Linked DNA regions of Homo sapiens: region 1 is linked to region 2. Evidence: fine-mapped expression QTL. Tissue or cell type: atrial appendage. Region 2 holds a variant in brackets; the other region holds the start of a gene. All regions are shown on one strand. Distances are from middle to middle.

Evidence for each region. PIP is the estimated chance that this variant, and not a neighbour inherited with it, causes the effect.
Region 1: PRR16 starts here. The variant in region 2 is fine-mapped to the expression of PRR16 in atrial appendage (GTEx, PIP above 0.99).

The regions. Positions count from the first base shown.
Region 1 is chr5:120,463,099-120,465,860 of GRCh38, forward strand. PRR16 (proline rich 16) reads left to right here and starts at 1,202. Exons shown (of 2, transcript NM_001300783.2): 1 at 1,202-1,547. The coding sequence starts at 1,389. RefSeq lists a silencer at 1,121-1,170 and an enhancer at 1,576-2,077.
Region 2 is chr5:120,052,181-120,054,942 of GRCh38, forward strand. No RefSeq gene overlaps it. Among named protein-coding and RNA genes, the nearest start is that of PRR16, 410 kb to the right of the region's middle. The variant C/G (reference allele first, on the strand shown) is at 1,156.

The sequences.
Region 1 (2,762 bases), 410 kb after region 2:
CTGGGAAGAGGAGAGCTGCCAAGCTTTTCTTTATGTGTAGCACAGTGGAGCTACCCAGAGTGTGAGAAGCAAGAAACAGAGAGCCTTGCTAAGGCACGACGAAAAGGGGAAGCCTATTAAAAGAATGATCTGGAGGAGTGTGCAGTGAAGAAAATAAAGTAGAGCCAGCCTGCTGGGTCAGTAGCTAATAGCCCATGGGTTTACAACTAAGGAAGTTAAAATTCTAGCTAATGAGAATTGTAGACACCTACTGAGAGTGAACCGAAGGCTTCCTATTAACTTCCCTTCTTGGGTCTTTTTGACAGAACAGTCAGAAAGTTGTTTCCTATTTGTTTAGTAGCAAAAGAGTTGAAATGGAGGTTTAAAAAATGATGAAAGAGAAGTTGGAGGCAATCTCTTACTCAGCTCCTTCACGAGGTCCAAATACGATGTCTCCCCCACTCCACTCAAAATGTAAATCAGCATAGGTCACAAAAAGAGGAAGGACAGTTAAAAAAAAAAAAAAGAGTTGGGCCAAATAAGACATACAGCCAAGATGACTGAGACAATCAGAGAGGATTTGGGGTGTGGGGACTTCAAATTAATAAATCCGGTATTAGCTTTGTGGAATTAGCAGGATTAGGGTACCTCTTTCAAGAACACTGGTTGAATTTCATGGTTTCAATAGATGACCATTAGCTGTTATGTGCACCCCCCCCCCCCTTTTTTCTTGCAGAAGTTAAGAAGTCTGCTTAACTCGCAGGTCACCAAGAGATTGATTAAAGGCCTCTGGACATCATTTGGGTTTGGATAAATCTGTAGGGCCACTTTACAGACTGTCTCCAACTCCTGATCCCACTGTGGTTCTTTCTGAATTGATCCAGGTCCCTGCTAGCAAGTGAAGCAGAAAGAATCCAGGCTAGTTGTGAGATGACATACAGCAAGCAGGCTGAGATGATGGGGACATTTCAGAACCAAGAGGAGGGGGCGGGCAGGACACGGACTTGTCTCCCCCACCTTGATGCCAAGGTGGCATCTGGGAGATATCTCGAAGGGCAACGTCGAGGGGACTGCAAGCGTCAACCCTGGCGCGGCAGCACGGCGCCCCTCTCCGCGGGCGGGGAGCGAGCGCGTGTGCGCGAGAGCGCCGGGCGGCGGCGGGAGGAGGCGCAGGCGCGCTGCTCGCCCGTCTGCAGCCCCGAGCCGAGCGCCGCGTCTCGGGAGTTGATGGCAGCACCACTGTGCGGCCGCCCGGCCGAGCGCGGAGCGCAGCCACTCGCCGCTGCCCAGGGAGCGCCCAAGATGTGGGGGGACCGGGGCGGCAGCGGCCGTAGCAGCGCCAGGGACGGGGGCACGCAGCAGCCTCCGCTCGCCCGCCTGTCCTGACCTGCCTCGCTTGCCCCCAAAGAATGTCAGCCAAGTCCAAGGGGAACCCCTCCTCGTCCTGTCCAGCCGAGGGACCGCCGGCAGCCTCCAAAACCAAGGTGAAGGAACAGATCAAGATCATCGTGGAGGATTTGGAATTAGTCCTGGGCGACCTGAAGGACGTGGCCAAGGAACTTAAGGAGGTGAGAGGCGCAGGGGTGGGGAGGGAGTTCGGCACCCTTCGACCCCTCCGGGGTCCCCTTTCCGATTTTCAGCAGGGACAGCCAGATTTCCAAACTCCTGGGAAACTACAGAAAAGGCGCCTGCAGACGGACTTTCTTTGCTCCTGGAGTCCTGAGAGGAGTTGTTGTTGCACTTTTTAATTTTTTTTTTTAATCAGGAAGAAATCAACTAGTGTTTTAATCGATGGACCTGGGCTGGTGGGAGGGATGAACGCACGCGTGTCTCTGAATCTGTGTGTGTGACGACGGGGGAGAGGGTTAGCTGGGGGTGTGTCGGCAGAGGAAGTCGTGAGCAGCCCGGCTGGAGCGTGCAAGATGCTCCTCTCCTGCCCTATTGCTTCCCCAGAGTCCTTTGGCAAGTCCGCTGCCTATCTGTCAGCCTCCCCAAGTCAGGGCTGAAGAGGGGCCGGGTTCTGGGCCCTGGGCCAGATCAGGGAGGGCAGCCTGGAGGAAGCTTGGCTCAGACTACCCTCCCTGTCTCTCGAGCCTCGCTGTAGGGAAGGCGACCCGGGCTGCTGGCAGCCTTGGGGCTAAGGAGGGGGTCTGGGACTTTCTCACTTTCTCAGTTTCTGAAGCATCCCCTGCTCTCCTCCGAACGTCGTTACCAGTAACTCTGGGCCTTCCCGCCACCCTACCTCTGCTTCCTTCCTTCCACCCTGTCGCCACTTGGCATTGAACCCGAGAAGCAGGACGCGCAGGAGAGTGTATGTGTGGCCGGGGTCTTGCCATTGGCGTCCTGGCTCTCTGCAGCTGGGACTGCTTCGGTTCTTCCCCGCTTTTCCTATCCCACTTCGGTTCAGCCCTACTCCCGCCCGCCCCTAGCCCCAGGTGATCCAGATGGAAAGAAGCAGAGAAGGTGTCAGGGCTGAGGCTGCGTAACTCAGGCGGCGGCTCCGGGCGGGGGCGGGGGCCGGGCTGGGAGGGGTGGGGTCTCCCGAGCCAGGCTGGCTGCCGGCGGCGTCGCGGAGCTGGTAGCAGAGTCCCAGCGCGCCGCTCACTACTGAATGGGGTCCTGGTGCGGTTCTCGGTGAGGGAGTCCGCAGCTCCGCTGCGTGAGAGCTAAGACTAGAACTTCGAAGGTGGCGGTGGCTGCAGCGGGAAAAGGGGTGGGGCGTAGTCTAGGTCCAAAATTGTAATCCTGTTTCTGAAGCCAACGGGGAGGAGACTGAGGGTTGT
Region 2 (2,762 bases):
AATCTGACCCAAGGGTTATGTTAACAGCCTATTACATGTCATTTCCGTTCTTCATCTTTGCCAGTTCATTCTTACTAAATAATTTCTTTAAGTGGAAACTTCCTATGAAAGATTGTCATTTTGAGGTTATGGGAATTTGGAAATTCTCTATAACTGAACATCAAGTAGTCAGTTTGTCAAAACTTCCTATCTCTTATCTATCAATCATATGCTTTTGAATCAGTTTGAGATAAAGCTTTTTCTGGCTGTGATGACTTTCTGATTTATTAGAATCTGCATTGTATATCTTTTGTTAGTAACCATGTGACTTGATACGGGAACAGACTCGTTTTCAAAAACGTTGAAAAGATCTATTCTGGAGAATTGCATCTTATTTTTCACAGTGACAACCCTGAGATTGTGGGATTTGCCTTTGGTATACAAATAAAAATTTAACTTTAGGCACCCAATCCAACATGGCAGAAATACAAACATCTTCAGGGCTATGCTGACTGCTGCTACTCATCTTAAACTCATAGAATGAATTGAAGCCAACCATTATGTGAATGGCACTCAAGAGCTGTGGGGACTTGTGATAGAGCCCAGGTGATATTTTTTGTCTCTCTACGTAAAAATTAATAGAAATATTCCACTTATGATTCCTTTAATCAACAATGAATATTCTTTCCCCCTGTGCTATAAGAAAATGATTAAAATTTGAGGGAGCATGCCATTTAGAATCCTTTGTAGGGCAGAAATGAGACTCTCTTTCTTGGCACCATGAGATTACCTAAGCATCCCATACCCTCTTTAGAAATGACAAGGAAAAGAAAAGACAGTTTAAACCATTGGGGCTTTACATAAAAGAGTCTGGAAGAAACAGTTTTAACTGGAGAGGACTGCAAAATCTTGTTAAGCAAACTTCAATTCCATCCACCCATCCCGGGGGAAGAAGATTAGGTCAGTTACAAAAAATAAAGAGGCTACATTATTCCATCTTTCCTTCACATTTTCATAAATACATGTTCTTTTATCCTGTTAACACATTACAGAACATACAAACCCTTTCATTAGAGATATAGTTAGTTACCCACCAGGTGCAGGAAAACATTTTTGGGGGTTTTCTGCCAATGTCTATGAAGTGTTGGACACAAACAGTGTCCTGATCTCCAAAGT[C/G]TTGGAGTACATGGTGTACTTCAAACTGTAGGGTGCTGAATGTTCCGCTGCACATGTCTTTGTCCAAGATTTTATTTGCCATGTTCCTGGAACTTTCACATTTCTGTCAGACACTAGTTATTCATTTGTTTACTTTTTTGGCTGTCTTGAGAAACTAAATTATATTTATATTGACTATCTTCTTTACTTTTTTCTCCCTCCCTTCCTCCATGTCTCTCCCTTCCTTCTTTTTTTTCAACTTAAGTGTTGTCACTGTTTCTATCTTTCCACTGAAGAGAGCTATAAATATGCCTGGCTTTTTCAAAGAGCAAAATGCAGACTTACGTCTTCAGTGTAGTACAAACTTACCAGAGCAAATTTTAATCTAGATAGGGGTGTAAAGACATGAGAATGTTCAATTCTGTAAGAACGTTCAATGTTAGTAAAACAGTAGGTTCCCTAAAATACTTGAGATTTTTCAGATACAAGATGTTTGGCAAAATTTATAAAAGCTGATATTTCAAATTCTACAGAACTGAATTTCATCGTTATTTATTTGAAAGCAATATTATTCAAATTAAGACTATTATACATTTCCTATTCTATTTTATTTATAGATTTCAATCAGTAGGTCTTCGTACTGCCAAAATTAATCTCAGAGTAATATGAGAAAAATGAACATGTTCTTAGTCCAAGAATAATAAGGGTATTTTAAGCAACCGGAAGGCCATTTGGGACAAATGAAATATGAGCTTCTGTTCCTGGGTATTTTGTCAAAGGAATTAGGCTGAATACGGCAATAACCAGTTTCTCTTATCTTTGCTTAAAATCAGTACAAAATAACCTTCTGGTGAAGGATAACAACAAAGCAAGTTTTAGTTTTCCAAAACTTCCTTTATCTGCTTAGAACAAATTCTGTCATAATTTTAGCTTAAGTTCATATGGGCAACTAAACGTGTTAAAAAAATAACATTAAAATATTTATAAAATTTATCCACAGATTGTTAGTAATTAAATATTATAAGTATTAAAATACATTTGCAAGGGTGTTATTAGTTTTATGTATAATTTAGTATATTCCAGAAATACGTGTGACTGTTGAGCATTTGTTAATTTCAGAGACATCTATACGGTGCTAGTAGTTCTAGTTCTAGCAGTTCAGCCATTAGCTGATGTACAGTAGTGTCACTTATTATTTTATTCATCGTAGGACTAAAAGCAAATTTCCTAGCCATAGTTAGACAGATGAGGTTTTAAAATATCCTGATTCGTCTGGGCACAGTGACACATGCCTGTAATCCCAGCACTTTGGGAGGCCGAGGCGGGTGGATCATGTGAGGTCAGGAGAGTGAGACCAGCTTGGCCAACATGGTGAAACCCTGTCTCTACTAAAAATACAAAAATTAGCCAGGTGTCGTGGTGCACAACTGTAATTCCAGCTACTCGGGAGACTAAGGCAGGAGAATCATTTGAACCCGGGAGCAAAGGTTGCAGTGAGCGAAGATCGCACTACGGCACCCTAGCCGGGTGATAGAGTGCGACTTCCGTCTCAAAAAACAAACAAACAAACAAAAAATAGTAATAAAATAAAAGTAAAATAAAATATTCTGATTCCCAGGCTGCGTTCC